3 separate regions of the Homo sapiens genome follow, and regions 2 and 3 are each linked to region 1. The links come from fine-mapping of genetic effects on gene expression. A gene starts in region 1. Each other region holds a variant in brackets. All regions are shown on one strand. Distances are from middle to middle.

Evidence for each region. PIP is the estimated chance that this variant, and not a neighbour inherited with it, causes the effect.
Region 2: its variant is fine-mapped to the expression of CDCA4 in blood mononuclear cells (TOPMed, PIP above 0.99).
Region 3: its variant is fine-mapped to the expression of CDCA4 in monocytes after R848 (Quach 2016, PIP 0.95).

The regions. Positions count from the first base shown.
Region 1 is chr14:105,017,393-105,025,568 of GRCh38, reverse strand. CDCA4 (cell division cycle associated 4) reads left to right here and starts at 4,486. Exons shown (of 2, transcript NM_017955.4): 1 at 4,486-4,570. RefSeq lists enhancers at 3,691-3,750, 3,766-4,279, 4,794-5,309, 5,761-6,421 and silencers at 4,051-4,120, 4,151-5,040, 5,051-5,140.
Region 2 is chr14:104,994,449-105,002,624 of GRCh38, reverse strand. CLBA1 (clathrin binding box of aftiphilin containing 1) reads right to left here. Exons shown (of 5, transcript NM_174891.4): 5 at 7,109-8,027. The coding sequence ends at 7,866. Among named protein-coding and RNA genes, the nearest start is that of CLBA1, 13 kb to the right of the region's middle. The variant AAGTC/C (reference allele first, on the strand shown) is at 4,030.
Region 3 is chr14:105,039,769-105,047,944 of GRCh38, reverse strand. The region is part of intron 1 of LOC124903398 (a long non-coding RNA gene); the gene reads right to left. Among named protein-coding and RNA genes, the nearest start is that of GPR132, 22 kb to the left of the region's middle. RefSeq lists an enhancer at 360-459 and a silencer at 1,995-2,254. The variant A/G (reference allele first, on the strand shown) is at 3,807.

The DNA.
Region 1 (8,176 bases):
GAGCAAGACCTTGTCTCAAAACAATAACGATAATAGGCTGGGTGCAGTGGCTCAAGCCTGTAATCCCAGCACTTTGGGAGGCTAAGGCGGGCAGATCACTTGACGTCAGGAGTTCGAGACCAGCCTCGCCAACATGGTGAAACCTTGTCTCTACTAAAAATACAAAAATTAGCCAGGTATGGTGGTGGGCGCCTGTAATCCCAGCTACTAGGGAGGCTGAGGCAGGAGAATCGCTTGAACTCAGGAGGCAGAGGTTGCAGTGAGTTGAGAGCATCACACCATTGCACTCCAGCCTGGGCGACAGAGTGAGATTCTGTCTCAAAATAATAGTAACAATAATAATGTCCTCCAGGGAATTGTCTTCTCGTGTCCACACTGGCCCTAGGCTTGGCCACATGTGGTTTGGCCACCTGGACATTGGCACATATGAGCAGAGCAGAGGGAAGTATAAAAAGAGCCCCTGTATTGGTGCCTGCCTGGGCTGGCCTTCCGGAGGATGACAGAGCAGAGATGAGTCAGTCATCTCTGCCAAGACCCAAACACTTGAGTGAGCTCAGCTGATGCCTCATGAGACACAGGATGCTGTGACCCCAGCCGAAATGCCAACCGCAGAAATGCCAGCAAACAAAAGGCTGCCTTTTGAATCTACTAAGTTTGGGAAAGTGTGTCACACAGCAAAAGGTAACTGATATAGAGGTGGGTGTCCTCCTTAATACTTTTCTTTTTTCTTACTTTATCTATAGGGTAGCCTTCCACATGTATTTCTCTAGATTTTTATTTTATTTTTTATGTTTATTTATTTATTTTTTGAGACAGAGTCTCACTCTGTCGCCCAGGCTGGAATGCAGTGGTGCAATCTCAGCTCACTGCAACCTCCGCCTCCTGTGTTCCAGCAATTCTCCTGCCTCAGCCTCCCGAGTAGCGGGATTACGGGTACATGCCACCACGCCTGGCTAATTTTTGTATTTTTAGTAGAGACGGGGTTTCACCATGTTGGCCAGGCTGGTCTCGAACTCCTGAACTCAGGTAACCCGCCCACCTCAGCCTCCCAAAGTGCTGGGATTACAGGCATGAGCCACTGTGCCCGGCCATTTCTCTAGATTTTTAATAGCATTTTGTGAGGTTTCAAAAATATCCTGGGATTTTGCCTGGCAATAGAATAAATGTATATATTCATTTGGGAAGTAAATGAACTCTGGACTCAGGCCCAGTGACACATTTTCACCAGCAATACCACTATGACTCCACTAAGAGAACAACTGGAGTCTCCGCATGGCCTCTCCTGGCCGCTGCCCCATGCACCTCTTCTCTTGGTTAATTTTAATGAGCCTTTTCATGGTAATGAACCATAACCACGAGTACAATAGCTTCTAGGGAATTCTCTGAGTCCTTCTAATGAATTTCAAACTTGAGGGTGGTCTTGGGGCTGTCCCTAACTTTGTACTTGTATATTTAGTTTGCTAAAGATTATACCATGAAGGGGTGTTGAATTTTACTAGATGCTTCTACACTGAGATTTTCATACTTTTTTTCTCCTTCATTCTATTGTCATGAATCATGTTGACCTTGCAATGTGAAATCAACTGTACTCCAGTTCCTGGAGTACACCCAACTTGGTTGTGATGAGTTACCTTTTTTACATTATCATTGGATCTGATTTGCTAATATGTGGTTTGGAATTTTAAACAATGTTCATGAGAGAGAATACCATGTGTGTTTTCTCCCATCATGTCCCTTTCGAGTTTTAGTATCAAATTTGTTAGCCCTGTAGAACAAATTGGTAAGAAGAGTTCCCCTTTATCATTTGGAAGACTCTGTGTAAGACTGATGCTCTTTCTTCAATTTGAGTCTTTTTTTTAACGGATTCTAGTTCTCCTTGTCATCAATTTTCCTGAATACATTAGTTACTGAAAAATATGACTCCAATCTTGGTGTAACCATAGACTTCTATGTTTTTTCTGGTCCTATGTCCTAGCAAGCCTGTTAATATTTTATGACTACAGTTAACAGTAACTTACTGCATATTTTCTAATAGGTAGAGGAGAGGATTTTGAATGTTCCCAACACAAAAGAAATGATGTTTGAGGTGATGGATATGCTAACTACCTTGATGGATCATTATACTTTGTATATACATGTCAAAATATCACACCAAATCTCATCTTGAATTGTAGCTCCTATAATTCCCATGTCGTGGGAGGGACCCGGCAGGAGGTAACTGAATCATGGGGCAGGCTTTCCTGTTCTGTTCTCCGGATAGTGAATACATTTCCTGAGATCTGACGGTTTTATAAAGGGGAGCTCCCTGCACACGCTCTCTTGCCTGCCGCCGTGTAAGACGTCCCTTCGCTTTTCCTTTGTCTCCTGCCATGATTGCGAGTCCATTAAACCTCTTTTTCTTTATAAATTACCCAGTCTCGGGTATGTCTTTATTAGCAGCATGAGAATAGACTAATATGCTCTGGAAGATATTATCTTACTCCAGACATTATTTTAGATCTTTGCCAATTTGACCCGTGGCAAACAGCACTCCAGCATAGCTTTAATTTCCACTGCTCTTGTTCTGATTGGGGCTGAGCATCTATTCGCCTGTATAGGAGCATTTGTATTTTCTTTGCTCTGAACTGTGTTTATATTCTACGCCCACTTTTCTTTTCTTTTTTTAAGAGATGGGGTCTCACTCTGCTGCCCAGGCTGGAGTGCAGTGGTGCAATCATAGTTCACTGCAGCCTCCAACTCCTGGGCTCAAGGGATTCTCTCACCCCAGCCTCCTGAGTAGCTGGGATTACAGGTGGGTGCCACTATTTCCAAACCACTTTTCTTTGGTGATCTAGATTTCATTTGCATTTGCAGAATATCTGTATATTAAGGAATTTAACCTTTATGTGGGATACAGCCAGGAAAAACTTTTTTCCCCATTTGTCTTTTCACTTTGACATGCATAAACTTTAAATTCTCAGGTAGTCACCTTTATCAAGTCCCATTTTCTTTTACCTGGGCAGTAACCTAATGGGATTTTCTACTTCCAGCCTTCCTGCCACCTCCTCCAAATCTATTACCAACAGTGATTCTTGGTGGTTGTGGTGCCTCATGCCTGTAATCCCAGAACTTTGGGAGGCCAAGGTAGGAGGATCACTTAAGGCCAGGAGTTGGAGACCAGCCTGTGTAACAAGACAATACCCTGTCTCTACAAAATTACCAAAAAAAAAAAAAAAGTTAGCTTGGTGTAGTGGCACACTTCTGTAGTCCCAGCTACTTGGGAGGCTGAGGCGTGAGAATCACTCGAGCACAAGAGTTCGAGGATACAGTGAGCCATAATCACGCCACTGTTGTCCAGCCTGGGCGAAAGAGACCCCCTTTTTTTTTTTTTTAAATAAGAACAGTGATTCTTTTCAAGCACAATTCAGATTCCAGTTCCTTCTCTGCTGACCATGCCAGTAGTCTCCATCCCACTCCCAGAATAGCCCAAAAGTCCCTCCACCCCTCACACTTAAAACTTTCCCACGAGATCACAGGGTTCTTTCTCACTGCACTGAGACGTGCTCCTGCCTCCTGCCCCTGCCTCGGGCTTTGCCCCAGCCATTCCTCTCCTGAATTCTCGTCCACTCTTCCTTTTGGTGCTTTAAGACGCTCCTTATCCTAGAGACCTATGTGAGCAGCGCCCCCACGTCACTCCCAGGTTTCCCGACAGCATTTCAGCATTTACCACCGACCTTGGCGCATCCGCACCTGCGGATTGATCTGAGGATTCCCCCCCAACTTCCAGCACTTGGCTCTCAGCTGCAGCCACGCCTGCCGGGCCTGCTGCAGGCGCTCAGGGTATTACTTAAGTCAATGATTGCAGGTTCTCGCATCCTATTTAAAACCTTTTCCACTAAGAGATTTAAAACACGTGTCCCCTGCTTTGAACTTTCACGTTACATTTCTTACGTGTAAACCTAGGAAGCCTTTGGAGATAACCCCGGTCTCTGGAGAGGCTTGGATAGACCTCGGAGCCCAGACCGCCCGGGAATTGCCGTGCCCGGCTCCTCCCGACCCCGGCACGGATGCCTCGGCGGAGAAGTTGAGCCAGGCAGAAGCGAGAGAGTCCAAACCTCTGTTTGCCCCGCCACGCCCGCCCGAGGGCCCCACGTGGGCCCCAGGCGCAGGCGCGTTCAGTTCAGGGCCAGACGCGCGGAGACCTGGGAGCTGGCGGGGCGGGGCCGGACTGGGCGCGGGGAGACCTGGGAGCCGGCGGGGCGTGGGCGTGGCGGGGCCGGGCGCAGGGGCGGGGGCGGGGCAACCGAGGGCGCGCGCGAGCCCCAACGGCCGTCGCCGCAGCGCGGGAAGACGCGCCACAGATGCCCCGCCCGCGTGGGTTTGAACAAGAGGCCCCGCCCCCGGCCCGCGAGTGGCCAATCAGCGGGCGTAGCGCGCGGAGAGCGCAGCGTCGACCCTTTGTGGACGCCGAGTGGCGGTCGCTCGCCCCGCCCCGCGCCGTCGGGCGCTCCTTCCTCAGCGGCGGGAAGCTGGCGGCAGCGGCGGTGGCGGTGGCTGAGCAGAGGACCCGGCGGGCGGCCTCGCGGGTCAGGTGAGCGGGCCCGGCGGACCGCTAGGGCGTCTACGGCGGCGTGCACTTTTGTGCTGCAGGGCGCGGAGGAGCCTGGGGGCGGTGCGCGGAGTCTGTGGCTCCTGGCGCTGGGTCCGGGGCGGAGGCGGCGCCCGGGACCACCGCTGGGGCTGCCGCGGCGCCCTCGCCGCCCTCCTGGGCGCTGGTTCCCCCGCGGGGTGGCCGCTGCTGAGGGGGCCCGGGGAACAGAGGGGCCCGGGCCGCCGTCTGCGTTCCTTGCGGAGCGCGGAGCTGGGGCTTTGCCGAGGCCTGCGGGCGGCCCCACGCGGGAGCCGCTTCACGAGGGCCCGGCTGGGGTACGCAGCGGCGTTTCCCGTACCTCGGCTCTAGTTGCAGCGGAGGGAACGCCAGGCGCGCCGCAGCCCCCTCTGTCGGAGCCCGGCCGCGGAGAGGGCCGCGGATGTGGGAGGAGGCCCAGACCCCGGGCGGGTCGGCCAGCGCCGTCTTCCCTGGGCTCCTCCGGCGGTGCGAGGTGGGACTAGGGAAAGTCCCCGAGACACTTGCAGAAGTCAGACGCAAGCCTCCCTCCGCGTCTTCAGACGCTTCTCGCCCCGCAAACAGGATCGTCGTGGCAAAGGCTCCGACAGCTTGCTGGAATAGAGGGTCTCCGCTGCCTCGCTTCTCCTGTGGCCTTCGTGTGGGACGCACGGGACGGCGGGACCCAGATAACCGTTCTCTCAAAGCGAGCCACAGAAAAACATTGCCTGTTCACAAAACTTACGTTTTATCAACTTTCTACGTACAACCACTCTATTTTCAAGTGTCACCGTGTTTTATAATTAGGGTGGAAATCCAGAATACAAAGTGAGTTACACCCCTTTTCTAGGAAGAGTAGTAGGCTGTATCTTGGAAAAGGGGCTAGGAAGTTTCCCTCAACTTGCCACTGGAACATGTTTTCAGGGAAAAGAAGGAGTGTGTTTCGTTCCAAGTAACAAAAGTACCTGCAATTGGCTGGGCGCGGTAGCTCACACCTCCCAGCACTTTGAGAGGAGGCCTAGGCGGGTGGATCTCCTGAGGTCCCGAGTTCGAGACTAGCTGGCCAACGTGGTGAAACCCCGTCTGTACTAAAAATACAAAAATTAGCTGGGCGTGATGGCGCATGCCTGTAATCATAATCCTAGCTATGTGGGAGGCTGAGGCAGGAGAATCGCTTGAACCAGAAAGGCAGAGGTCTCAGCCGAGATCGTGCCATTGCACTCCAGCCTGGGCGACAGAGCGAGACTCCGTCTCAAAAAACAAAAAAAACCAAATACCTGAAATTAACATAACAGTAATTGTTCATGAACAGCCTCCAGGAGACTTGTAGTGGAAGGTGGAGCTCCCACTCAGTACTCAAGACTGCAGACCTTGCTCCTCTTCTCCCTGTTTTTCCGATAAAGTATTTCAAAGCTTATCTGATGTGTGAGGAATGGAAATTGTTGATGATTTGCTTAAAAACCCGAAACTTTGAAGTGGCTGCAAGTCCAGCTGTGAAGGTGACAGGTTAGGTCAGAGTTGAGTCTGTCCCCAACCGTCCCAGCCCTACTGATCAGAATCTGGGAATCTGCGTTTTCAGCCAGCCTCGTGGTATTGCTCAGCCACGAAGGTGTGGCCACTGCTGCTGTAGTGAAGGACCAGTCCCCGAGCTGTACTCTGCTTGCCTGAGCAGCACTGCGGGGCTGCTCCCTGCTGGCCTCTGCCTCGGTGGGCCTAGGTTGCTCTGTCCCTAGTGGCCTGTTGGCTGTTCCACCTGCCATGTCGGACATGTCCTCAGTCCGTCTGGCCCTCTTCGTTTTTCTCTGTCTGGTCGGTGCTTGGTTTAGAAGCCTGAGGGCAGTGCTGGGAGTTGACTGAGGGCTTGGCTGTCCCGGTAACAACCTGTGGAGTTGGTGGGATTTTAGGCATTTAACTAGATGTGTAGAAAGAGCTTCAAAACTGAGCAGGGGGCCAGGCATGGTGGCTCACGCCTGTAATCCAGCACTTTGGGAGGCCGAGATGGGCGGATTGCCTGAGTTCAGGAGTTCGAGATCAGCCTGGCCAACATGGTGAAACCCCGTCTCTACAAAAAATACAAAAATTAGCCGGGTGTGGTGGCGCGTGCCTGTAGTCCTAGCTACTCGGGAGGCTGAGGTAGGAGAATCGCTTGAACCTGGGAGGTGGAGGTTGCAGTGAGCTGAGATTGCATCACTGCACTCCAGCCTGGGGGACAGAATGAGACTCTGTCTTAAAAAAAAAAAAAAAAATTGAGCAGGGAGCTAGGCTCCACAGCCCCACCGGTATGGTATAGGGCCCTTTCTCATTCCATATTAGAAGGAGTTAAGCAGCCTCAGGCAGAAGTCACACAGGAGGCCCTCAGGGAGCTGGGCCCAGCCCAGGCATCCCTCGGGGCTGGTTAAGACCATGCTCTTGCTGACTTTGTCCCAAACACAGATATAACCCAATTCAGGGTGATCCTCACAGGCCAGCTTCTCCGGGCCCAACCTTATCCTCTTCACTCCTGAACACATGTTCTGGGTGACAGCTCTTTGGGGTCACGTGACTGTAAAAAGCACCTGTGAGCTTTACTCTTTTTTGTATTAATAGTAATAAACTTGTCAGCATTTTAAAATATTGGGTACAACACAGAATTAACAGCTGCTGGAGATTTGGAACATTGGAGAGGAATGATTTGAAGTGACTGAACAGGGATATTCTCCTGGTACCAGAATGGGATCTGTGCATGGGATGAGATGCAGTGGAGGATGATGGGGATTATCTCTCGTCCCTTGTAGAACTTGTGTAACCCAGGCACATCTATGCAGGTCCCTGGGTTACACAAGTCCTACAAGGGGCGAGAGAGAATCTCCATCATCCTGGAGGATTCTTTCTGGCCCCTTGTAGCATTTCCCACCCTGATGGTGGCTACCCTTCTGTGTTTTCACAACTTAGATTAGCTTTGCCTGTCCTGAAGGTTCAGATCAATAGAATCCTACGGTACATATTTTTGTGTGTGTCTTGCTGCTTTTATTCAGCATAATGTTTTGAAATTTATCCGTGTTGCATAAATCATTGAGGTATGTTGCTGAGTTGCATTCCTTTGTCAGAATACACCAGATCGTATACATTCAACTTGTTTTAAGTGTTTTTTTTGTGTGTGTGTGTTTTTTTTTTGAGACGGAGTCTCGCTCTGTTGTTCAGGCTGTAGTGCAGTGGTGCAATCTCTGCTCACTGCAACCTCCGCCTTCCAGGTTCAAGCAATTCTCCTGCCTCAGCCTCCCGAGTAGCTGGGACTACAGGCACGTGCCACCACACCTGACTAATCTTTTGTATTTTTAGTAGAGATGGGGTTTCATCGTGTTGGCCAGGATGGTCTCAATCTCCTGACCTGGTGATCCGCCTGCCTCAGCCTCCCAAAGTGCTGGGATTACAGGCATGAGCCACTGTGCCCGGGCTGTTTAAGTCCTAAAAGAATGCTTGTGGCTGGGTGTGATGGCTCACTCCTGTAATCCTAGCACTTTGGGAGGCCGAGGTGGGCAAATCACTTGATGTCAGGAGTTCGAGACCAGCCTGGCCAACATGGCGAAACCCCGGCTCTATTAAAAATACAAA
Region 2 (8,176 bases), 23 kb after region 1:
TGTACACTGTGAAACAGCTAAGTCGAGCTAATTAATATGCACTGCCACACATACTTGTCACTTTTTGGGGTGAGAACACTTAAATCTACTCTCTTAGTGGTTTTATTATTATTTTTTTGAGACGGAGTCTTGCTCTGCCGCCCAGGCTGGAGTGCAGTCGTGCAATCTTGGCTCACTGCAACCTCCACCTCCCAGGTACAAGCGATTCTCCTGCCTCGGCCTCCTGAGTAGCTGGGACTACAGGCATGTGCCACCACGCCGGGCTAATTTTTGTATTATTAGTAAAGATGGGGTTTCATCATGTTGGCCAGGCTGGTCTCGAGAACTCCTGACCTCGTGATCCACCCGCCTCAGCCTCCCAAAGTACTGGGATTACAGGCGTGAGCCACCGTAGCCAGTCTCTCCTAGTGGTTTTCAAGAATGTAATCCATTGTTACTGATTACGGTCCCTGCGTACAAGAGATCCCCGAGCTCATTCCTTGCAACTGAAATTTTGCATCTTTTGGCCACCATCTCCCCAGCCAGCCCTCAGCCCCCGGCAACCACCAGTCTACTCTGCGTCTGTGAACTCCCCTTTCTTTTTTGAGACAGGGTCTTGCTCTTACCCACGCTGGAGTGCAGTGGCGCAAACATGGCTCACTGCAGCCTCAATCTCTTGGGTTGAGTTTTGCTTTTTTTTTTTTTGAGACAGAGTCTCGCTCTGTCACCCAGACTGGAGTGCAGGGATTACGATCTTGGCTCGACGCAACCTCCGCCTCCCGGGTCCAAGTGATTCTCCTGCCTCAGCCTCCTGAGTAGTTGGGATTACAGGCACGCACCATCACGCCCGGCTAATTTTTGTATTTTAGTGGAGACGGGGTTTCACTATGTTGGTCAGGCTGGTGTCAAACTCCTGACCTCAAGTCATCTGCCCAGCTTGGCCTCCCAGAGTCCTGGGATCACAGCCGTGAGCCACCATGCCCAGCCTTTATTTTATTTTATTTATTTATTTAGAGACAGAGTCTCGCTCTGTTGCCAGGCTGGACTGCAGTGGCCCGATCTTGGCTCACTGCAACCTATGCCTCCTGGGTTCAAGCAATTCTCCTGCCTCAGCCTCCCGAGTAGCTGGGACTACAGGCACACACCACCATGCCCAGCCAATTTTTGTTTTAGTAGAGACGGGGTTTTACCATGTTGGCCAGGAGGGTCTCGAACTCCTGACCTCAGGTGATCCGCCTGCCTCGGCCTCCCAAAATGCTTAGATTACAGGCGTGAGCCACCATGTCAGGCCCCGGCCTTTATTTTATATTTGTGTAGAGATGAGGTATCACTCTGTTGCCCAGGCTGGTTTCAAACTCCTGGACTCACGTGATCCTCTTGCCTTGGCCTCCCAAAGTGCTGGGATTACAGGCATGAGCCACCACACCTGGCGAGTTTGACTTTTTGGGTTCCACGTATGAGTGAGATCACGTGGGGTTTGTCTTTCTGTACCAGCTTATTTCGCTTAGCATAAATGCTTCAGGTTCATCTAGACAGTTGCAAATGAGAGGATTTCATTTTTTTTTTTTTTTTTTTTTTACAGCTGAATAGTATCCCATTGTGCGTATGTACCACATTTTCTTTATCCATTCATCTGTTGTTGGACACCTAGGTTGGTTCCATAGCTTGGCTATGGTGACTAGTGCTGCAATAAACATGGGGGTGCGGGTATCTCTTCAACATACTGATTTCCTTTCCATTGGATAAATACCCAGTAGTGGGATTGCTAGATGATATGGTAGTTCTATTTTTAACTTTTTCAGACACCTCCATACTGTTTTCCATAGCGGCGGTACTACTTTACACTCCCACCAACAGTGCACAAGCATTCCCATTTCTCTACACCATCACCGACATTTCATCTGTTTAGAATAGCCATCCTAACAGGTGTGAGGGGGTATCTTATTGCAGTCTTGATTTGCATTTCCCTGATGATTACTGATATGGAGCATTGGTTTTGTATAGCTGTTGGTCATTTGTGTGTGTGTATATATATAAAAATAGATATATATATATTTTTGGAAAATGTCTGCTTGGCTGGACGCGGTGGCTCACGCCTGTAATCCCAGCACTTTGGGAGGCCGAGGCAGGTGGATCACCTGAGGTCAGGAGTTCGAGACCAGCCTGGCCAACATGGTGAAACCCTGTCTCTACTAAAAATACAAAAATTAGCCGGGCATGGTGGCGGGCGCCTGTAGTCCCAGCTACTCGGGAGGCTGAGGCAGGACAATCACTTGTACTCAGGAGGCAGAGTTTGCAGTGAGCTAACATTGCACCATTGCACCCCAGCCTGGGCGACACAGCAAAAAAAAAAAAGAAAGAAAGAAAGAAAAAATGTCTGTTCAGGTCCTTTTCCTATTTTTTCAATCAGGTTATCTGGGTTTTCTTCCTGTTACGTTGTTTGAGTTCCTTATGTATTTTGGATATTAACCCCTTATCAGACATATGGTTTCCAAATATTTTCTCCGATTTCCGAGGCTGTCTCCTGGCTGTGTTGGGCAGAGGCTGCCTGCTTTTCCTCGCTGTGTGTTATTCGAAGTTGTCTCTACATTTGGTTTGTTTGAATCAGGAGTCATGCGAGAGCTGCACATCACATGCTCTTACGTCTTCACTTAGGACCATCCCTTTTTCCTAGTGTTCTGCCATTTTCCATTTTGTTGATTTTGGCACTCAGTTTTATTTCCTTCTTTCTGCTTACTTTTGGTTTAATTTGCTCTTTTTCTTGCACATTAACATGAAATCTTAGGTGGTTTTGTACTTTTCTTACTTTCTAATATAAACATTTAAAGCTATAAATTTCCTTCTATGCACTGCATTCACTCAGATTTTGATCAGTGCCATTTTCATTATTCAGTTTCAATTACTAAGTTTCCAGTGACCTCTATGGACCCACTGGTTATCTGGACATGTGTTGTTTTCATGACCTCCTGCTGTGTAGCTGCCATCACTAGCTTCACAGCATGCAGCACCTACCATCTGTTACTGCCATGATCTCATGCCACGGCTTGGCTGGGCTCAGCCGGGTGGTTCTTGCTGGGATCTGTCAGGCCACTGCTGTCAGGCAGCAGCTGCAGCTGGATGCACCCCACCCTGAAGGCTTCCCTCCTCCCAGGGCTGGCATGCTGGCCGGAAAGCTCCAGCAGCTGGGTCCTTGGGCATCTTGTCAGCATCTCTGTGGGATCACTGCAGACATTTCTCCAGCATAGAGGCTTCAGGGTGGCCAGGTTTTTTGCATGATGGCCAAAGCCTCTGAAGGCCATGTCCCTGGCCTCTGATGTGGCTGACGGCTCAGTTATCTGCTTGGAGAGAGCTCCACGTCCACTAGAAAGAATGAGGGCTTTGCAGTGTCACTCAGGTCAGGTGATGGTCACGTTCCTTCAGGGCCTCTAGGAATCAAAGGCCAGGACAGATTTACACATTCAAGAAGTTTATTTGGGGAAATACTTATGAAGGACAAAAGGGTTAGAAAGCAGGAGCAGGCAGAGGAAAGCTGTCAGCCTCAATGCAAGCCTGGCATCTGTGGGAGGAAGGGCCTTTGCCACACCCATGGGCCCTGGATAGAGTGTCCATCTGAGGCCGAGGTGGGCAGAAACGGCTGGCTCTGCACCACTCTCTACTCAGCACTGACTGCAGACAGCTGGGAAGCGGCAGTAGCTGGCTGGGAGAGGGGCTTCCCTCTTGGGTCTGGTCCTCCATCAGTGTTATTTGGCACAGGAGCCCAGCATGGCACGATGGGCCCCAGCATGCCCCGTGTTTGCACTGGCTCTGCTCCTGAGCCACTCCAGTAGGGTGCTCCTGGGGGCACCTGTCCTGCCAGCTGTCCCTGCAGACCAGCTCCAGCTCAGCTCCTTTGCCTAGGCCTGTTCCTATATAGCCACACTCACTGTGAAAGGCCTGCGTCTCAGCCTGGGAGGGCAGGGGGCCTTGGCCAGGCCTTAATTCCTCACTGTACCTCACCGCCAACCCAGAGAAGCTGCTTTCCCGCACCTGCTACTTCAGGGCCTATTAAGT[AAGTC/C]TTTATTGAAAAACAAAAAACAAAAAGAGAGGCCAAGGCAGGAAGACTGCTTGAGCTCAGGAGTTCAAAACCAGCACGGCAACATCGTAAGACCCTGTCTCTAACCCAAGCCAAACCAAACCAAGACCCTTTTAGTAGTTAACCAACTTTTACTACTTAATTCTTTTTTTTTTTTTAAGAGATAGGGTCTTACTCTGTTGCCCAGGCTGGAGTGCAGTGGTGTGATCACAGCTCACTGCAGCCTCCAACTCCTGGGCTCAAGCAATCCTCCCACCTCAGCCTCCTGAGTAGCTGGGACTGCAGGTGAGCGCCACCACACCAGGCTAATTTTTTTTTTTTACTTTTTTGTAGAGATGGGGGTCTCACTATGTTGCCCAGCCTGGTCTCAAACTCCCGGCCTCAAGCAATCCTTCCACCTTGGCCTCTCAAAGTGCTGGGATTACAGGTATGAACCACATACCGGGCCTAGTAATTCTTTACATTTTTTCCTCTTCAGATAACTGGTGTGGTTTCTGTATCCTGGCTGATAATGCCTTCATTTTTAAAGAATATTTTTTTCTTTTCTTTCTTTCTTTATTTTTTTGAGATAGAGTCTCACTCTGTTGCCCAGACTGGAGTGCAATGGCGTGATCTCGGCTCACTGCAACCTTCCCCTCCCAGGTTCAAGTAAGTCTCTTGTCTCAGCCTCCCAAGTAGCTGGGATTACAGGCATGCGCCACCACGCCTGGCTAATTTTTGTACTTTTAGTAGAGATGGGGTTTCTCCGTGTTGGCCAGGCTGGTCTCAAACTCCTGATCTCAGGTGATCCACCTGCATCAGCCTCCCAAAGTGCTGGGATTACAGGTGTGAGCCCCTGTGACCAGCCTAAAGAATATTTCAATGTATGTGAACTTCTAAGTTGACCTTCCTTTTCCCTTCAGCACCGCAGATGTGGGTGCGTGCGTGGCCTTCTGGTGGGAAGTGAGCCATTGTTCCTATCGTTGCTTCTCTATATGAATCTCCTGTTTCCATCCTAGCTGCCTTTAAGGCCTGTAGGATGTGTTCAGGTACGGTTTTCTCCACGTCACCTCCTTGCAGTTACAGAGATTCTTGGATTTGTGGATTATTTTCTTTCATGAATTTCAGAAAGTTCTTAGTGATTCGGTCTTGGAATATTTCTTCTTTATTCTCTCCTGTTCCTGCTCTGGGACTCCAGTTACACCCAGTTAGGCCATCTGACTTTGGCCCACAGATCTTGGACCCTCTGTCGTCTTCCCTCCCCTCTCTGTGTTTGGATCTTCTTTAGTGACCAATCTTCAAGTTAACTGATCCATTCCTCTGTGATGTCCAGTCTGCTGTTAAACCCATCTAAAGATCATTTATATACTGTATTTTTCATTTGCAGCATCTTCATTCTGTCTTTTACTGAAGTGTCCCTGTTTCTGCTGAACATCCCTATCTCTTGGTGAATGTCACCCGCCATTTCCACAGGCCCTCCCCACCTCCCCAGAGTTCCTTCAAAGCCCTTGACTTCAGTTTTACCACTGGGGCTGACTCTGCTTCTACTGCTCACTGTGGCTCACGTTTTCTTGCCTTTTCATGTGTCTTGTAATGTCTTACTGCAGGCTAGACAGTTCATATAAAAGAACAATCGAGGCTGAAGCAAACAACGTTTAGTTCCACAGAGGGGCACGTGCCTTCCACTGTGAGGTTGCCAGAGTGGGAACAGAGTTGTCCTTCCCGGTAGTTGAGCTAGCTCTGGACTTCTCTGCAGCTGTAGTTAGGCCTTCAGACGCCCTGAGGGTGGCATCAGGGCATGGCTTCGGTGGGGTCTGAGCTTTGAGCACAGTGATTCTGGACATCAGCCTGTGTGTCGCAGCCAAGCCACTGGCTTTGGGGGCTGCATGATTTCTCCGTTCTTCAGCCGGACTGCCGTCCTTTTTGGCCACTGGAGGCTTCCTTTGCTCTCCATTCCAGCCCCTCGCCTTGCGCCCGGGGTGTCTTGCAGCCTCTTCCTCAGCCTTTGGGGGCTTGCCTCCCGCCCACTGTCCCAGCTCCCCTGCTGGGCCTCCAGACTTTGGGAACAAAAATCCCAGCATATCTGTGAGAGGGGCGTTCTCGAGGGAGTGTCCGTCAGCTCCCTGCCCCCACTCCCAGCTTTTGGCACTTTCTTCCTGAGCACTCAGTGTGGACCTGAGGGAGGCCAGGGAGCTTTGGACTTGCCTGTTGCAGGGTCCTCCAGACCCTGGGGGCTTGGCAGCCGCACTAGTGGACAAGTGGTTTGCATGTACGTCGCCTGGTCCCTCCTTACCTGACTCTGAGGGGCCTCTTCCTCTCACTCCCCTCTGGGGACGAGAGCAGCAGGGCCTCTCTTCTCTAGTGGGTGCCACAGAAGTCAGGTTTGGAACCTGTTGCTTCTGAGGTTCCTGTGAGGCCACAGGGAAGTCAGAAGAAAGGCTTGGCCTTCTGAGGTCTGTGGGTCACCAACATCCAGCCAGGTGAGGAGCAAGGGCCACCATGGGTGACACCATGATGCCATGGCACAGTCTGAACCCGAATCTTGGAGTGGGAGGAGCAGGATGGAGTATTTTGGCTTGTTAAAGTCTAACTTTTAAAGGTTAGGAAACCAGGGCATCTCCTGGAGGGGCTCTGCTGGCAGGGCCCAAAAGACAGTGCCTTTGAAGGAAGCTGTGTGTTAGAAAAACAGTCTCTAAATTCCCACTTTCCCCTGGCTGAAAATGAAAAATAAAGGCAGCTTTCCAAACCATGTGGTACCCAGAAACAAACAAACAAAAAGGAATTCTCCTCATCACAGACCTAGAGCCACGTGCAACATGGTGCTGGCTATGCAGCTGGGTGGCCGAGGCCAGGGTTTGTGCAGGGACATCTGCTTCCTCCTCCCTCATGATGGAAACTCCTGCCCATCACTGTGCACATCGCACTGATACCACAGTGACATGGAGGCTATGGTCCCCTGTGTGGCCTTGGCAGGAAAAGAGACAGCCAGGGTGGCTGCTTGCTTAAGACTTCAGGCCTCCCCTGGGGACAGGATTTCAGGTATCAGTCCCCCCAGCTGATGAACCAGTGACAACAGGCTTATCCAGGTGGTTTTATTTAGTAAAATTTTACAAAAGTCAGGGCTGACTTCTTGGCTCTGCCCTTCGAAGAGCACAGTTTTCCTTAGCAGATAACTGGGGGAAGCCACGGGCCCACCAGAGGCTCTCGCAGGCCAGTGGTGCGACCTCCTGTCCACAACCGTGAGGGACAAAGGCCTGTCCTTGAGGCTGCTGGGCAGGGGCCCAGGCAGTAAGTGAGGGCACCTGCGAGGCTCTGAGGACACAGCACATCTGTACACCCTCATGGTGCCCTGACCACACAGCAGCCAGGGCAGAGTGTGACAGACAGAGGGTTTCTGAGCGGTCTCAACAGCTGTCTCTCTGGTGACGTTTCAGTGCCTTCCCCTTTTCCTCTGAACTCATGGATTTGGCCACAAGTTGCTCCCCCTGGACTAAGCAGCCCAGAAGCCATGCCCAGGGTCCATCCCTGGGCAACCCCCCACCAGGTGCCAGCAGCATTCACATGGGGCAGGGGGCCCATGAGTGCCACCTGGACCCCGACAGCCTGTCATGGCATCCAGAAACCTCTGTCTCCCCTTGGCTCTGCCAAGGACACATCCTCCATCTCCTGGTCAGACCCGAGACAAGCCCAGAACACAGGACAGGTCCTGTTGGAGAGATCCCAGGAATGGGCCTGGGGTCTGGAAAACAGCTCCACAGACAGCTCTGGTTTCCACATCAACCCAGCCAGGAAGAAAATGAAAAATTCCTCATAAAGGTACAAAGTCCTCCTGATTTTAGCAAACGTCGCTATTAAAGAGTGTCAGTTTGAGCTTGCGTGGAGTGAACATCCTTTTCCTTGGAATAGTGATGTGCTGGCCACCTCCGCATGAGGGGGTCTTCAGGAAGCGGCTGCATGTCATCAGCCTCCCCTGTTTGCTGCCAGGCGGCCCCGAGAGCTGAGATGAGAGGACAGCAGTCAGGCGCGCGCACCCCGGGCAATGAGAAGCGCTAGCTTGGGCGTTTGCCCCTGGCCGCCCCCTGCCTCTCGGCCCCCTAGTGTTCTCTCCTTGGTTCTCCTCTTAGAAACCTTCTCATCATGGGATGT
Region 3 (8,176 bases), 22 kb before region 1:
GGCTTACCTGATGGGAGGGGCAGCTACGGGGACCTTGCCCAGGGTGAGGCCCAAATGGGACCAGGCACCCAGAAGGGAGGCCCAGCCCAGCCCTTAATGCTGAGACCCTCGAGGGCTGTGGGCGGAGGGCAGCAGGTTGAGTCCCTGCAGGACGGGCGCAGCTGGGGAGGTGGAGGTTACGGGCCTGCCTGGCTGCTCACCGCCCCGCGTCTGCTCTGGCAGTGAGAGAGGGTCACAGCATGGCTTTGTCATCAGCCACTGACCACTGACCACAGGCCCTGGCCCTGTCATCCAGCTTGTGCTGCTGGTGGGAGCTGCTGAGGTGGCCAGCGCTAGGGGCCGCCCTGTGTGGAGTCTGGGCTCACTCACTGTCTCTCTCACCATCGACCCCTTCCTCCGCCCCGCTTGACCTCACTCAGGCACTCCCTCCACGAGGTGCTCCTGGGGCACCCCAGGTAGTGAGGAGGCCACAGTGAAGGCCGCTGTGACCCACGCAGGGAGGCGGGAATGAGGAGGGGAGCCCCGAGGGCCACCCCTGCCTCCAGCACCATGCCCTGCCGCCCTGCCCTCCAGCCTCTAGCCACAGTTGCCTCTTCAGACAGGGTCCAGGAGGGGCAACACTGCTCTGCTCACTGCCCTGTCGTTACCTGAGTAACGGTGACAGGGAGAGAGGACCACACACCTCCTCGCCAGCTGGAGAGAAGCCCCCGGACCTATGGAACTGTTCTCCCAGGTCCTACTGTGACGAAGACACCTGCACACCAGGGGAAGGAGCAGTTCAGAAGCAGCACCTCAGGCTCTCCGGAAGGCCCTGTGTCCCGTCCACACCCGCTCCCCTCCGACCATCCCCACTCTGCCTGGCATGGCAGGGGCTGTGGATGCCTCACAGCGACAGCCCAGGGAGAGGCCGCATAGGCCAGGGAGGCAGGGAGAGTTTTGTTGGGAATTCTGGGATCCTACTGCCTGGAGTTGGGGCAGGGGAGCACAGCCCAAGGAGGTCACATCCTGGTGGCCCTGCAGCCTCCTGGCATGTGGGAGGACATGCCTGGAAGAGACAGCATGAGGGGGGACCACATATGGAGGACTTTTTTTTTCTTTTGAGACAGAGTCTTGCTCTGTCACCCAGGCTGAAGTGCCGTGGCATGATCTCAGCTCACGGCAGCCTCCACCTCCTGGTCCCCTGAATAGCTGGGACCACAGGCGTGCACCACCACACCCAGCTGGTTTTTTTTTTGTTAGGGACAGGGTTTCACCACATTGCCCAGGCTGGTCTTGAACTTCTGGACTCAAGCAATCTGCCTGCCTCAGCCTCCCAGAGTGCTGGGAGGGATTACAGGCATAGGCCACCACATCCATCCTTTTTTTTTTTTTTTTTTTGAGACAGGGTCTTGCTTTGTCACCCAGGCTGGAGTTGAGTGCAGTGGTGCAATCTCAGCTCACTGCAGCCTCTGCCTCCTGGGTTCAAGCGATCCTCACACCTCAGCCTCCTGAGTAGCTGGCATCACAGGCATGTGCCACCATGCCCAGCTGCCCAGCTAATTTTTACATTTTTTATAGGGACAGGGTCTCACTGTTGCTCAGATTGGTCTTGAACTCCTGGCCTCAAGCAATCTGCCTGCCTTGGCCTCCCAAGGTGCTGGGATCGCAGGAGTGAGCCAGCCCCCAGTGCTAGCAGTGCTCTTGGGTAATGAACGTGTGAATGAGAGCACACTGAATGGTCGCGTGGGGCGGCCACCCTCCTGAGGGACAGCTCACTATGGACAGGTGATACCACCACTTGGTACCTCCTTTCTTCATCCATAATTTGCGAATGGTGACAGTGACTGTCCCACAGGCCTGGTGGGGTATTAATTCAGATAGTACACGTCCCACACCTAAGATGAGCCTGGCACAAAGCAGCGCTCAAAAACACACATCTTCCTTTAACTTCCTCCTCGGTTCCCCCAATGGGGGATCTTGCAGGCAAAGTGTTGACGAAAGGTCCGCCCGTTCCCAAGAACGACCCTAGAGGGCGCCAGGCAGCGGGGCTTGAATGGACCGGGCGGGTTTCGCTTTCCCGCTAGTAGCCGCCCGCGGCCGCCAGGGGGCAGCAGCTGCAAAGGGCGCCCGTGGGCAGCCGGGCCGCGCCTGTGGCCACGCAGTGCAGAGGCGGCCCCATCCGAGCGCTCGGGCGGGCGGGAGCGGAGCCGGAGCAGTGTCCCCGCCACCGCGGAACCTTCGCAGGCGGAACATTTTGCACATCCTTCCAGACCTTTCCTAAATCCTTACCTGCCTGCACAGGCACTCGTGGAAAATACGCGATACTGCCTTGTGTGTATGCATTTATCCAGCTTTTTATTTTGAAATAATTCCCAATTTTGGGGCTGGGCGCAGTGGCTCACGCCTGTAATCCCAGCACTTTGGGAGACCGAGGCGGGCAGATCACGAGGTCAGGAGTTCGAGACCATCCTGGCCAACATGGTGAAACACCGTCTCTACTAAAAATACAAAAAAAAATTAGCTGGGCGTGGTGGCGTGTGCCTGTAATCCCAGCTACTCGGGAGGCTGAGGCAGGAGAATCGCTTGAACCAGGAAGTCAGAGGTTGCAGTGAGACTCCGTCTCAAAAAAAAAAAAAAAAAAAAAAAAAATCCCAATTTACAGAAGGTGGCAAACACCGTGCAAAGAGACCCGGATATTCCTGTCCTGCAGATTCGCCATCTGTGAACATTGCCCCGCTATTCCTTCTCTCGCTCCTGCTTATATGGCATTTGAGAATAAGCTGCAGACTCCAGGCTTGCTCCCCTAAACAGCTCAGAGAGTATTTTGGAAATAAACGAACTCTCTCCCAAGTAATTGCAGTGAACCTTGAAAAATCAGGAAGCCACCACTGATCCAATGTCCCCATCGACTCCGCAGAGCCCCTGCCAATTTCCCCGCTGTCTCAGTGAGTCTTTGTGGGTCTTATGGGTCTTTGTGGGATGGCCCTCGCTCTAGCCTTGCCTGTTTCCTGTGGCTTCTTCATTTCCAGGAGGAACCCCTCAGAAGTGAGACTTTCCTCTTACAGCAACCTACCGGAGGCCCACGGGGCCAATCTGGCCATCGCTGGTGATGATAACCCTCATCGCTTGGGTATGATGGTGTCTGCCGCCATTCCCCACTGAAAAGTTAATTAGTAAGCATTTTGCATTCATTAATGAATAAGCAATTATTACACCGTTTCTGGGGAGAGAATTTGAGGTTTCCACTATGAGGTCAGGCTTACCCTTCTCTCTCATGTGTGTATGTGCGGGTCTCCGTCCATTTTGTCTTGCTATAAAAGATTACTTGAGACTGCATAATTTATCAGAAAAAAAAGAGGTTTACTTAGCTCACAGTTCTACAAGCTGAGAAGTTCAAGGGCATGGCCCTGGTGAGGACTTTCATTCTGTGTCACAAAATGGTAGAGAAGGCAGGGCACAGTTGCTCACACCTGTAATCCCAGCACTTTGGGAGGCTGAGGTGGGTGGATCACCTGAGGTCGGGAGTTCAAGACCAGCCCGGCCAACATGGTGAAACCCCGTCTCTACTAATAATACAAAAATTAGCTGGGCGTGGTTGCACATGCTTGTAGTCCCAGCTACTCGGGAGGCTGAGGCAGGAGAATCGCTTGAACCCAGGAGGCAGAAGTTACAGTGAGCCGAGATCGCGCCGTTGTACTCCAGCCTGGGCGACAAGAGCAAAACTCCATCTCAAAAAATAATAATAATAATAATCCAAGATCTGGGCACTAGGGGTGCTCACTGTTTCCAGATCTGTAGAAAATACATATGCCTATACACACACACAT[A/G]GATATATACACACACATAGATATACATCTGTATTTCCAGCTATCCATATTGGAACTGGATTTGTACTGATATCTCCAATTTCAATCCACCCAGCCAGAAGTTGGTCCAGTCTGACCACTTTCCTAATTTGCAACTCCCTTCTCCGAAACGAGAGTCCTCAAATCCTTCATCCCCGATGCTTTTACTTATTTGTGCAATCCCCAGCCCTCTCCAACGTCTCTTTCTTGGCTCCTTGGCAGGTTAAAAGCTGGCCCTCAAGGAGGAGGGAAAGGGGAAGTAGGAAAAAGGAAGAAATGAATGGTCTGAGAGTTCCCTCTGTTTGCAAGTGAACAGTGAGCCTGCCAGTGTTCTGAACATGGGCAAGACATGAGACACCTGGGTCTGAGACAAAGACTTTGTTACTCACAGCACAGCAGGCAGCACGAGCTTCATATTCCCCCCAGCCCCCCAGCCCCACGGACAATGAGGAGTGGCTCCGGTGGATGCTGTACACACAGCTAAGGAACCCTGGGTTAGGAAACACCAGTCATTTAAAGGACTGCTAGCAAACCTGCCCAGTTTCTGCCCAGAGGGAGAAGCCATCTTTATTATCTTGGACAGCAAGCAAATTTGCCCTCTGCCTGGAGGGAGACACATGCATGACGCTGAGGATTCACGTGTGGACATTGGGACCCCAGGGCCTGAGCTGAGACCCCAGCACTGCCCTTTACTCTCTGGGACCTTGGACAAGTGACCCAACCTCTCTGTGCCTCGCTGTCCTCATCTGGAAAATGGAGACAATAACTGTATCCAGGTCACTGCTTTCTTAGGAAGATTAGCAAGACCAGTATACAACGTGCCAGGGTCATCTATGCTGGGAAGGGCTGAGTGGGCTGCAGACAGGGCCATGGATGGCCTCTCTGAGCAGGTGCTTTTGAGACCAGACCAGTGGAAGTGGGGAGCAACCTTGCAGCTGGTCTGGGTCAGGCGCAGGGCAAAAGCCCAGGGCAGGGAGCACTTCAGGTGCTCGAGAAGTGGTGAGAATCCACGGGGAGCAAGAGCCCAGGAAGCCAGGCATCGACAATGGAGTTCCCTCTGAGCACCTGAGACGGCTGTGCCGGGGACTCCTGAGCAGAGGCCAATGCAGCCAACTCGCATTTAAGGGCCCGCTGGCTGTCGTGGAAGTGCCTGGATACTCAGGAAGAGCTACAAGCATCTGGAGGCGGCCCAAGGGTGCAGGTGAGCCTCCGAACTGGGCAGCAGCGCGGGCGGTTGCAGGTGGGTAGATCCTGATGTGTGTGAAGGTGGAGCCGAGGACGCTGGCGGGCAGATGGGAGGTGGAGGTGAAAGAAAGAGGCTGCAGGAGGAACCCAGTGCTTCGGAGGAGCCTCAGGTAGCTGGTGGTCTTCCTCTCCTGTTACCACAAATTGCGTGGTTTCAAGCAGCCCACCTTTCTTAGCTTGCAGTCTGTGGGTCTCTGCTTACGCTGGAGTCAGGCGGCAGCTGGTCACGCTCTGGTCTGGAGCTCAGGGTCCCCTTCCAAGCTCGCTCCTGTCGCTGGGAAGCCGGGTGTGGGACTGAGGAGGTCCCTGCCTCCTTGTGGTGTCACTGATGGCTGCTCCCTGCTTCTGGGGGGTGCTCATGTTCCTTCTCACGCCCCCCGCCCTGTCTTCAAACCAGCATCCGCACCTTGAAGCCTTCCCAGGCTTGGACCTCCCTGACTCCCCCTCCTGTCACCAGCCACAGAAAACTGTCCTCTTTTCAAGGCTCCCGGGACTAGGTCAGGCCCACTTGGGAATTAGCGTTAAGCTCCACTCTGCCGTGTAAACTCGCCCGACCTTGGGAGTGGCACCTCCGCAGAGGCACCAGTTCCAGGGGCTGGCGCAGGGGAATCTGGGAGAGCACATGTTCTTAGAATTCGGCCTAAACTGGGGTGCTTAAAATAAGGGCACGGCTGACACGCAGTGGCCTCCTGGTTCTTTTGGTGCAGGGTGGATGGCGTTTAATCCAGGACTGGAGAGGCGCCTGGGGAGTAGGCGGTGACAGAGGGGCGGTGTGAGGGCTGGGATCCGGAGCCCTGCAACACTGGGAGGGGGCGGAGAGGAGGGATGCACAGAGGCTCACGAGGAGGGGCTGGTGGGAAGAGCAAGTGCAAGGGTTGGGCAGGGCAGGGCAGGGCCCACAAAGTTTGGCCCAAGGCCCCCAGTGGCTTGGAGAGGAGAGGAGGGTGGAGGACGGCTGGCAAGCCCATAGGTACATAAAGGCCTCAGGAGGCCAGCATGGTGACTCATGACTGTAATCCCAGCACTTTGGGAAGCTGCAGTGAAAAGATCGCCTGAGTCCAGGAGTTCAAGACTAGCCTGGGCAACATAGGAAAATCCTGCCTCTACCAAAAATACAAAAATTAGCTGGGCATGGTGGTGTGCGCTTGTTGTCCCAGCTGCTCGGGAGGCTGAGGTGGGAGGATGGATTGAGCCCGGGAGATTGAGGCTGCAGTGAGCCATGATCACACCACTGGTGGAGAAAGAGTGCACCCCAGGAGTTTGAGACCAAGAACAGCAAAGTAACTGTGGCCACGGGGGTGTGGGAAGGTTTTGGGGTATTTGCTAGTATGAAAGGAAAATATGGGGACCCCAAAATCACTAAGCCAAAGTGAAAAGTCAAACTGGGAACTGCTGGCAGGCAGACCTCCCTCCAATCCTATTTGTAAACAAGACAGCTACAAAGATTAAAAAGCTACATACCTCCCACACAAATTGCCCACAAGGAAATTCCTTGTGATGTGTTACCCGTGGAAGGTGCTCCCCACTCCCTGCTTCGAGTTGTCCCACCTTTTTGGAACAAACCAATGTGTTTCTGTTTCTTTTTTTTTTTTTTTTTGAGACAGAGTCTCACTCTGTCGCCCAGGCTGGAGTGCAGTGGTGCAATCTCAGCTCACTGCAACCTCTGCCTCCCGGGTTCAAGCGATTCTCCTGCCTCAGCCTCCCAAGTAGCTGGGATTACAGGCGCCTGCCATCATGCCCAGCTAATTTTTGTATTTTTGTAGAGACAGGGTTTCACCATGTTGGCCAGGCTGGCCTTGAACTCCTGACCTCAGGTGATCCACCCACCTCGGACTCCCAAAGTGCTGGAATTACAGGCGTGAGCCACCGTGCGCGGCCTTATGTATTTCTTTCTTTCTTTCTTTTTTGAGATGGAGTCTCGCTCTGTTGCCCAGGCTGGAGTGCAGTGGCACGGTCTCGGCTCACTGCAACCTCCGACTTCCTGGTTCAAGCGATTCTCCTACCTCAGCCTCCCGAGTAGCTGGGATTACAGGCGCCCGCCACCATGCCCGGCTAATTTTTGTATTTTTAGTAGAGACAGGGTTTCACCGTGTTAGCCAGGATGGTCTCGATCTCCTGACCTTGTGATCTGCCCACCTCGGCCTCCCAAAGTGCTGGGATTACAGGCGTGAGCCACCGCACCCGGCTGGCCTTATGTATTTCTTAAATGTGTTTGATTGATGTCTGTGTCTCCCTAAATTGTATAAAACCAAGCTGCACCCCAGCCACCTTGGGCACATGTTCTCAGGACCTCCTGACGGCTGTGTCACAGGCCATGGTCACTCATATTTGGCTCAAAATAAATCTCTTCAAATGTTTTACAGAGTTTGATTCTTTCCATTGACATGTTACTGGTGAAAGGTATCTGAGTTACTGGCAGTGAATCCGTACAGGTCTGTGGCAACCTCAATTCTTGCCTCCTCAGAAGAATTCGACCAATGGGCATAAGCAGAAGGAGAAACTGAGGTAAGTTTCAGAGCAGGGGTGAATGTTTATTAAAGAACTTTGGAACAGGAATGAAGGGAAGGAAAGCACACGTGGAAGAGGGCCAGGTGGGCGACTTGAGAAACCAAGTGCACGACAATCTATACAATTTTTCTTTTCTTTTTTTGAGACGGAGTCTCGCTCTGTCACCCAGGCTGGAGTGCAGTGGTGGGATCTTGGCTCACTGCAACCTCTCCCTCCTAGGCTCAAGCGATTCTCCTGCCTCAGCCTCCTAAGTAGCTGGGATTACAGTTGCACGCCACCACGCCCAGCTAATTTTTTTGTATTTTTAGTAGAGATGGGGTTTCATCATGTTGGCCAGGCTGGTCTTGAACTCCTGACCTCAAGTGATCCGCCCACCTCGGTCCTCCCAAAGTGCTGGGATTACAGGCATGAGCCACTGCACCTAGCCCAATCTATACAATTTTAATCATGTTGAGTATAAAATACAATTTCCATAAGCCTTTTATAACCTTTTATTAAGGACTGGGTTAATACTCCAAGAAAACCTTGTTAATCCGACACAGAGGCCCATATGCTGGGCTTACATCAGTGTGCCTTCAACATTAATGGTTAACTTATCT